Linked DNA regions of Homo sapiens: region 2 is linked to region 1. The links come from fine-mapping of genetic effects on gene expression. A gene starts in region 1. The other region holds a variant in brackets. All regions are shown on one strand. Distances are from middle to middle. Region 1 holds the start of TFG (trafficking from ER to golgi regulator). Region 2 has its middle 8.7 kb from the start of ADGRG7.

What was found. PIP is the estimated chance that this variant, and not a neighbour inherited with it, causes the effect. A credible set is the group of variants that fine-mapping cannot tell apart.
Region 2: its variant is the best candidate, but not a certain one, in a credible set for the expression of TFG in platelets (CEDAR, PIP 0.85).

The regions. Positions count from the first base shown.
Region 1 is chr3:100,707,476-100,712,714 of GRCh38, reverse strand. TFG (trafficking from ER to golgi regulator) reads right to left here and starts at 3,221. Exons shown (of 8, transcript NM_006070.6): 1 at 2,994-3,221. RefSeq lists enhancers at 1,871-2,761, 2,762-3,653 and a silencer at 2,895-3,124.
Region 2 is chr3:100,598,328-100,603,566 of GRCh38, reverse strand. No RefSeq gene overlaps it. Among named protein-coding and RNA genes, the nearest start is that of ADGRG7, 8.7 kb to the left of the region's middle. RefSeq lists an enhancer at 179-448. The variant G/A (reference allele first, on the strand shown) is at 3,167.

The DNA.
Region 1 (5,239 bases):
TATTGTCTTTTCCACTTGATGGTAGGAAGTAAACGATTATGTTTTCCATATTCCCAGAGTCTACAACAGTGCCTAGCAGACAACAGTCATTCAACAGCTATTAAATAAAGGGAAAAATAATGGATTAATATCTCTTCTTCTCAAGGCCAAGATGTTCCTGAATGTTATCTATAATCGCTGAACATTTTCCAAGCATAACTCCTTCCTCCTCCTGCCCCAAGAAAATGATCTCTTGAGACTTTTCAAGGTATCCTACAAACTACTACTGGCCACATTCTAGTTTCAACTTCCCGCCTTACTACTAGCAGCTTTCTGCTTCCTCCTCTTAAATCTGTTATTTCATTAACACCACACTTCTCTGCAATTATTCTTTATTCTTTCGGGGTATGTGAAAGCACTCACCTACTCCCCCAACATATCAACCCTTCAAGTACTTCAAAAAAGTTTTCATGAATCCTATTATATGAATATTATATATTAATGCCCTACTATTCTTCATATAAATACGCTAGGTCCTTCCATCTAACTAGTCCTTAAATTAATATCTCTAGACCCCTCACCATGCTCTCAACAGATATTTTATTAATAAATCTTCAATGAAATGGGTCATTAAAACTAAATATAACACTCTAAGGTCAATGCAGAACAGAGTGAACTGCATTCCACTCTAGGGATGCCATGCTTATCTTAATGCAAAATAAGAATACAGTTAGCTTTTTATCTGCCAGTTCTCACAATGGACTTCTCGTGAAGACAGTGATTAACAGAAATCTCCACACAACCAACTCTTCGCCTTCTGCAATGCCTTCTGCAATGCTTTCGGTATTCAGGAACTACTTATTAAATACCTACTATGTGCCAACTCTAAAGTATAATTACTTCACCAAGATGGTAAATATTCCATCTTGCTTGCTCTGGCAGCCTAAGAGTAATAAAGACCTTTCAATAAATCAATGTATTTGTTACCTTCTCCTTCCTACAAGAAGTGTAAACCAGCAATAATGTAAAAGGAACCAGTGCTTAGCTTCAGTGAGCTGGTACTATCTATTCCCAGCAGCACCTAGAAAAGTGCCTGACATATAGAATTTAAAGACTTTGTTTAAATTTTTTAATTATGGGAGAAGAAAGCTGTAATATAGATCAGTTTTTACATCCGACCCCTCACACTGTACCTTCTTTATGTAGCTAGAAGTGACTTCCATCAGACACACTCCTAATTAAGAAAAAAATTCCAGCTTTGAAGATAATTGATGGTATGTCCTTCTGACTGGGGTACGGGTTTGTTGCCCAATTTCAATGGATTTAAAATTTGAGGGCCGGGCACGGTGGCTCACACCTGTAATCCCAGCACTTTGGGAGGCCGAGGCGGGCAGATCACGAGGTCAGGAGTCCAAGACCAGACCGATCAACAGGGTGAAACCCTGTCTCTACTAAAAATACAAAAATGAGCCAGTTGTCGTGGCGCACGCCTGTAATCCCAGATACTCAGGAGACTGAGGCAGGAGAATCGCTTGAACCCGGGAGGCGGAGGTTGCAGTGAGCTGGGGGATCACGCCACTGCACTACAGCCTGGGCGACAGAGCCAGACTCCGTCTCAAAAAAAAAAAAAAATTGAGTCACGTATACTTTCTATCTGCCGTGTTTACCTGCAAATTCACTTTTTGTGTTTCCTATTGACTGTAAACATCTTGTGGCCAGGAACCAGTGCTTCTTTCCTAAAGCTGTCGTTTGCTCTTGCAGTCATCTCCCCAGAGTAAACACAAAAGTATCTCAAAAGTAAGTGTGCAACAAAACTTTCCCTTCAAGGGGAAATCCCAACCCAACATTACTTCACATACAGAATTCTGGTACTCATTTTCTCTTCCAAAGTAGAGACTGGTATTAACTAGTTCCTAGAACTGCCAGTAGGAGCCCTACGACAAGCTCTTCTCCCATCTTGTCCTTGCCCCGCCCCCTCTGAAGTCCAGAAATGACTCGGCTTCTAACTTGTATAATATAACCCTCTACCAGGTACACTTTTCTCAGCACTGGGAATAATCTGACACGCCCAAGGTCATATAAAAAGCCTGCCTCCTGAACCAGGTTCTAGGTTCGGCGGACAAACTTCTGGTTCTACTACCTCTAAGGGTAAGACCCTGCTCAATTTCAGAGGCTGTGGCTTAAGCACCTCCTGAGGGGAGCAGTTTCCTTCAAGAAATACTAAGCCAAGTCAACCTGTAATTATTCTAAAGAATGCCAAGAGGCCTCAAACCCTGCCTCAAAGGCAGTGCAGCAAGACGGTAAAGATTCTCACTACTAGCTATGTGATCTTAAGTCCTCCAAGGCTCACTTTCATCACATTCGAAATGAAAACAACCATATCTGAATTTGGAGGAATCCTTGTGATGATTAAATGAGACAGTGCATCCAAAATACTTACTGTAGTGTCCAGCAAAGCAAACTCTTAAAGTTAGCTAGAATCATCACTATAAACCAGGCTGGGCCTCCAGCCGGCGCTTGATTAAGCGCTGACTTAGCCAAGGAACTAGGCTCCGATTCTATGACCCCAATCAACTTATTCCCGTAGGCGCCACTCCACACCCTTCCGAGCTCCTTCGGGTATTGGGCGCCGGCCGCCCCAAACCTCCCAAAGCCCCTCTCCTCTCAATCCAAACGCTTGGAGGCAGGCTGCACCAAGGCATTAGCTGGCGCACTCCCCTCCCGGAGCCCCCCAGGCGCGCCTCCTGGCCACCGCAGCCAGGGGTTGCCTCTCTCCCCTCCCCCTCCGCGACCTCCCTTCCCCTCCCCCCATGCAAGGCCCCGCCCGCCCTCCCCCCCGGCCTCGTCCTCCCTCCCACCCCCTCCTCCCTCCCACCCCCTCCTCCCTCCAGCCCCTTCCCACAGTGCCTCCGACCCCAGCTGCCGCGCGGTTCGAACGAGGCCCTCCCAGCGCCTCCTAGTCTCCCGGCCTCCTCGGACAGAGCGCCCGCAACCCCCGTCTCCAGTGGCCATACCGGCTTGCGGAGGCCGCGGCCGCCGCCTCTCCGCAGGTCTCCGCTGAATGGGCGGACGCGAGGCCACTGGACTGGGGCGTCGCGGGGAGGCGGTGGTCACGGCCCCCTCGGTTGCCCTTCGCGACCGCCGCACCTCGCTCGCAGGCTCGCGCGGGCCCCGGCCAATCGCGCTGACCCAACAAGCCTAGCGAGAACTTGGGCTCTGTACGTGGCAGGTGGGGGAAGAACAGAGGCGGGAGCAAGAAAAAAAAAAATGTCCTTTCGCCCCTCCTTATTGCGCGTGGACATACCCAGGACGCATGCGCGACGGCGCGAGGCGCAGGGCTGGCTGGGTCCCGGCTGCCTAGGCCGAAGAGTCCCTGCTTTCTCACTGGATGACGGGATTTAGGAAGCGTGAGCTGCCCCGATGCACGCATGCGCGGGGCGTGACCACGCACTTCCGGTTTTCTCGAAAGCGGGTATTTCCGTTTCTCGCCAATGGGCGGGGCGTAGTGCGCTGTTCTAAACTTTTTGAGAGTTGGTTGCAGTAGACGTCTGTCCAACTTTAAGTGGTTTTTGTCGTTATTGTTGACCATTGTAGTAACAGCTGAAAAAGAAAAAACCTTTTCTTCTATAAATCCATTCATTCATTATTGGGAGCCTATGCTTTGCCAAGCCCGGTTCTAGGAATGGGGGTGAATCATTTTGTGAGCAAGGAGTTTCCAATTAAGCAGGGAAGACCTACAGCGTTTATGAGCAAGGAAAATCTGTAACTGTGTAAAGGACAAAAGCTGGGAAATTAAGGCTAAAGATTCCTGAGTGATTTTTAGAGGATAAGGCATTTGAGTGTGTCCTACGTACTCTTCCCTTCTCCCTTACCTGTTCAAATAGAAATACAGTATGAGTAAGTAGGAATTTATAGCCAAGGGGTGGAAGTCGGTCAGTGGATGGAAAATTACTAAGAGGAAATATCAGGGGCAAGGGAGATTCTGGCTAAACCAACACAACAGGATTCTAGACGAAGATAGGCCAGGATAGCAGACATCACCTGGGGGTGGTGGAGGATGAGGAACCCCATCAAGGGTGAGGGATTCTCACTACACTGCCTTAACAAGGTTCTTTGCTGAAACTGAGTTTTACAAGAAGATGCACAGATGGTCCTAGGAGAAGGCCCAGGAGCCCGAAGTTTGGCCAAACGGAGAATGTTTGTCACTTCTAAGGTGGAGACTAAGCTGATAAATAAAGCATTTAGACCCTACCTGGTCTCCAGTTGTTTACCAGTTATAAAAGAAAAACTTAAGCTGAATTAAATTTAAAGGAGTTTAATTGAGCAGTGAACGATTTCACGAATTGGGCAGCCCCCAGAATCACAGCAGATTAAGAGACTCCAGCAGAGCCACGTGGTGGAAGATTTATAGACAAAAAAAGGGAAATGAGGTACAGAAATTGGCAGTGAAGTACAGAAACAGCTGGATTGGTTACAGGTTGGCGTTGGCCTTATTTGAACACTTAGCAGTCTATGAGTGATTGAAGTGTGGCGGCTGGAATTGGCCAAGACTCGCTTATTGTAAGAGACGCATACTTCTAAGTTAGGTTTTCAATCTTGTCTGTTAAGCTAGGTTACAGTTCATCCACAAGGATTCAAGTATAGATGTATGGAGTCCTTCTCAGGCCATATTTAGTTTGCTTTAACACCAGATACTCCTAAAGGACCTGGAGTAAATTCTGGTGTTTCAGGGTGAGAAGCTACGTTCTTTTACAACCATAAGTAGTGTGATCTTTTTCAGTTATAAGTCTCTGAAACTTCTGTTTGAGAGTGAAATAATGTAAGTTTACACTGTTCACTTCTGATTTGTATTTTCCAACAGTTGTATTGACCTTTGAGCAATTGTTTGCAGGGATAAGGGAGTGGAGTACTGCAGAAGAAATGAAAAACAGTTCCTAATTGCTCTCCAAAGAATGTTATTCATTGCTTATTTTTTAAAACTGAATAATACAGATTTGGGGAGATGCACTGCTGTCAGATAATAGTATTATGATGTCATTAAGATGGTTTGGGATGGGGTAAAACCACAACCATATGGCAAAGGTAAAATATTCCCTGAAGGAAGTGAATTATACTACTGTTATAGTAGTATATTTAAACTAAAAAGAGGTCAGATCCTGAGGCAGGAGATAAGGAGGTGAACCTTGGCCTATTATAAGGTGAAAAGAGTATCTGCTGAGGATCCCCAGTGAGGGGGCACTCAAGAGTCCTGCTACTGAGG
Region 2 (5,239 bases), 110 kb after region 1:
CACCTTTCTTTGCATCTTCTTTTCTCTATAGCCCTTTGTTCTTAGGAACTTCCTACTCTCCCCAGAGCCAGGTGTTCCAGATAGGATCTTCGGGGCTGATTGGTTCCTGGAGGCATCATTTTGTGGAAAGTAACTCATTTAACACTAGTGGAAGTTTATTGTCCATGAAACTAAAATATGTGCCCATGGGAGATGCTGGACTCTGATTCATGTAACCCTGAATGAAGCTCTCTGTGCTCTAGAAGATGAAAGAAAAGGAACTCCCGAAAGTCTTTTTTAGTTTCAAATTTACTTCTTCATTTTGCTCTAGAGAACATCAGTTCCTCTGTTTATCTCTGCAGATTCGTTTCCTTTATCTTTCTTTTTCGCTTTCTCTTTTATTTCTTCCATTTTCCATCTCCAAAGTCTGAGCTGGTTGGCAGAGGTGTATAGTAAAGATTAAAAGAGCAGAGAAACAGTCATGGTTAAGTTGAGAGGCACAGTGTAGGAAATAGTTTGATTTTCTTCTTTTCGTTCTAGAAAGCCCAATTCAAGTGAAAGGCAAACCCCAAATTTGTAGTAACTAAGCAAGAGAATCATCTGAGAAATAGTCCCGTATAAACACTAGTCCTAAAAATAGTAGTAGGAAGTCATAAGCTGATCTGAGCAAGATGGGTTGAAATTTGCAATGTCCTGTGTGAAACAGCACTATCCTTTACATGTTGACAAGATAATATTCTGGATCCTAATTCTTTCCATTTAGTAAAGTATAATTATTTAATGAAATGATCAGTGTAAGTTATTTATTGCTACGCAACAGGTCACCTCAAAACTTAGGGATTTAAGATACAATCACCATTCATTTGCTTATGACCATGCAATTTGGGCAGGACTCTGCAGAGATAGCTTTGTTCCTCATGTTTATTTAGCTGAGTCATCTGGAAGCTCAGCTGGAGCTGGAGAATCCAAGTTGGCCTTTCTCACCTGTCTGGGTCTTAGCTAGTTGATTAGAAAGGCTAAGTCAGCTGGACCTTTCTTTACCTCATAGTCTTTTCTCCGCTAGGGCCTCTTTCTTCCTGAAGCCTCCTCAACAGAATAACCTTGCTTCTTCACATAGCAGTTGAATTCTAAGACAGCAACAGTGGAAAATAAGACCTCTGGCAGTCTGTTGTACCTGAGCGAGTTAGAGAAAACACCACAATTTGAGATGAATTAAGAGTCCGTTTATTTAGCCGGCGGCCAAGAGACGGCTAATGCTCAAAGTTCTCTTGGCCCCGAAGAAGGGGCTAGATTTTCTTTTATACTTTGGTTTAGAAAGGGGAGGAGCGGTCTAGTTAAAACAATTTTACAGAAGTAAAGTAGGCAAAAAAGTTAAAAGGATAAATGGTTACAGGAAGGTAAACAGTTCCAGGTGCAGGAGCTTTAAGACTATTACAAGATGATAGACGCGGGGCTTGGGGCATTATCAATCGGACGAATTCCTGGGAACTGCGGATATAGCTTGCCACAGTATCTTATCAGTTAATTGCATTCTTGGATGTGCTGGGAGTCAGCTTGCACAAGTTAAGTCCTTGAGGAAGGGGCTGCGAGTGAAAGAGCCAAGATGGAGTCTGTCTGGCTCTCTTAGCTAAAGGAGAGTCAATTCAGGTGGAAACAAGGCTAGGTGATTAAAGGAAAGGGAGAGTCTAAAAACAGCGTTAGTAAAAACAAGGTTGGGCATTACATTCTACAACCAGAACTTGTTCAGTGTCACTTCTACCATATTCTCTTGGTCAGAGAAATCACCCATGATTATTGCAGCACTATTCATGATAGCCATGATATGGAATCAACCTAACTGTCCATCAACAGATGAATGGATGAAGAAAATGTGGTAGATATGCACAATGGAATACTATTGGGCCATAAAAAAAGAATGAAATCAATTAACAGCTGTAGCTGGGGCAGCAGAGGAAGTCAGGCTCCACATGCACTCCCCCAAGAAAGGAGCATAATCCAGTCGCTAAGAAGCAACTGCAGACCTCGCCTCCACTGCATCTTACAGGCCATAGTACTATTAAGAAGTAAAAGGGTGGGAGTTTCTGATCATCATGGCGGACAGGAGACAGGACTAGCTTACAGCTCTGACTTGTACAGACAGAGCAGTGTGCAGAGGCTTGTATTGTGAATTTTAGCTGCAGAACGACTGCAAGAACAAACCAGGAATCCCAAGAGGACCCACAGACCCTCTGAAGGAAGCAGACTACTCCTGCAGGACCCAGGAGACCCCCAAATGCTGTGAGTGCCCCAACTGCCGAAGTGGGAAAAGAAGATTCACTGCTCCCGAACACATACCCCCACTGGGGAAAATAAGGGTCTAGTTTGCAGGAGAAGTTTCTGACCTTGCCTGAAGCTGAGTCAATTTAGAGAGCCAAGCAAAATACAGGGGTAGAGCAAGCAGCGGGAAAGGCCCTGGGAGCTTCCCGGGTCCCCAAGTAGGCCACTCTTGCCTGGCACCACAGGGATCCTTCAAGAGGGCAGCCAGAGGTGTGGGGGGAAATGCCACAAACAGAAGGAAATCTTTAGCTAAACTTTGTAACAATTTGAACCAGGCAAGAAGCCTCCTGGCCAGAACTCGGGGCAGAACAAGAATCCGGCATGCAGACTCCACAAGCAGGGGAAGAACCAAAGTCCTTTTCTTTCCAAGCTGGGAGGCAGGTAGCCTGGGGCAAGTTCTCAAGCCCTGCTTGCCCACTGCCTGGACACAGACTCGGGGCTGTTTGTGGGGGTTCATGGTGGAAGTGAGACCGCCCTTCAGATTGCGTGGGAGCTGGGTGAGGCCTGTGATTGCCAGCTTTCCCCACTTCCCTGACAACCTGCATGACTCAACAGAGGTAGTGATAATCCTCTTAGGTACGCAACTCCAGTGACCTGGGAAGCTCACCCCCATTCCCCACAGCAGCTGAAGCAAGATATGCCCAAGGAGAGTCTGAGCTCAGACATGCCTGGCCCTGCCCCAACCTGATGGGCCTTCCCTGCACACCCTGGTAGCTGAAGACAAAGGGCATATACTCTGGGGAGTTACAAGGCCCCGCCCACCACCAGTTCCTCTCCATACTACCATAGCTTATGCTCTCTGGAAAGCACCACGTGCTGGCAGGAGGCCAACCACCACAAAATAGAGCATTAAACCACCAAAGCCAAGAAC[G/A]CTGACAGAGTCCATTTCATTCCCCTGCCACTTCCACCAGAACAGGGGCGGGTATCCATGGCTGAGTGACCCATAGATGGTTCACATCACAGGACTCTGTGCAGACAACCCCCAGTACCAACCTGGAGCTGGGTAGACTTGCTGGGTGGCTAGACTCAGAAGAGAGATAACAATCACTACAGCTCTGCTCACAGGAAGCCACATCCGTAGGAAAAGGGGGAGAGTACTACATCAAGGGAACACCCCATGGGACAAAAGAATCTGAACAGCCTTCAGCCCTAGACCTTCCCCCTGACAGAGCCTACCCAAATGAGAAGGAACCAGAAAACTAACTCTGGTAATATGACAAAACAAATCTCTTTAATATCCCCCAAAAATCACACTAGCTCACCAACAATGGGTCCAAACCAAGAAGAAATCCCTGATTTATCTGAGAAAGAATTCAAGAGGTTAGTTATTAAGCTAATTAGGGAGGTACCAGAGAAAGGAAAAGCCCAATGAAGGAAATCCAAAAACAAGGTACAAGAAGTGAAGGGAGAAATATTCAAGGAAATAGATAGCATAAAGAAAAACTTCAGGAAACGTTGGACACACTTAGAGAAATGCAAAATGCTCTGGAAAGTCTCAGCAATGCAACTGAACAAGTAGAAGAAAGAAATTCAGGTCTTCAAATTACCCAGTCTAACAAAGACAAAGAAAAAAGAATAAGAAAATACAAAAAAAGACTCCAAGAAGACTGGGATTATGTTAAACGACCAAACCTAAGAAAAATCAGTGTTCCTGAGGAAGAAGAGAAATCTAAAAGTTTGGAAAATATATTTGGGGGAATAATCGAGGAAAACTTCCCTGACCTTGCTGGAGACCTAGACATCCAAATATAAGAAGTACAAAGAACACATGGGAAATTCATTGCAAAAAGATCATCGCCTAGGCACATTGTCATCAGGTTATCTAAAGTTAAGACGAAGGAAAGAATCTTAAGAGCTGTGAGACAGAAACACCAGGTAAACTATAAAGGAAAACCTGTCAGATTAACAGCAGATTTCTCGGTAGAAACCCTACAATCTAGAAGGGCCCTATCTTCACCCTCCACAAACAAAACAATTATCAGCCAAGAATTTCATATCCAGCAAAACTAAGCATCATATATGAAGAAAAAACACAGCCTTTTTCAGATAAACAAATGCCTAGAGAATTTGCCACTACCAAACCACCACTACAAGAACTGCTAAAAGGAGCTCTAAATCTTGAAACAAATCCTGGAAACACATCAAAACAGAACCTCTTTAAAGCATAAATCACACAGGACGTATAAAGCAAAAACACAATTTTAAAAGCAAAAACAAAAAACCAAGGTACACAGGCAACAATGGCATCATTAATGCAATGGTACCTCACACCTCAATACTAACACTGAATGTGAATGGCCTAAATGCTCCACTTAAAAGATACAGAACTGCAGAATGGATAAGAACTCACCAACCAACCACCTGCTGCCTTCAGAAAACTCACCTAACATATAAGGACTCAGATAAACTTAAAGTAAAGGGGTGGGAAAGGGCATTTCATGCAAATGGACACCAAAAGTGAGCAGGGGTATCTATTATATCAGACAAAACAAACTTTAAAGCACAGCAGTTAAAACAGACAAAGAGGGACATTATATAACGGTAAAAGGCCTTGTCCAAAAGGAAAATATCACAATCCTAAACATATTTGCACCTAACACTGGAACTCCCAAATTCATAAAACAACTACTAATAGACCTAGGAAATGAGACAGACAGCAACACAATAATAGTGGAGGACTTCAATACTCCACTGACAGCACTGGACAGGTCATCAAGACAAAAAGTCAACAAAGAAACAATGGATTTAAACTATACCTTGGAACAAATGGACTTCACAGATATATACAGAACATTTCATCCAACAACTGCAGAATACACATTCTATTCAACAGTGCATGGAACTTTCTCCAAGATAAACCATAAGATAGGCCACAAAATGAATCTCAATAAATTTAAGAAAATTGAAATTAAATCAAGCACTCTCTCAGATCCCAGTGCAATAA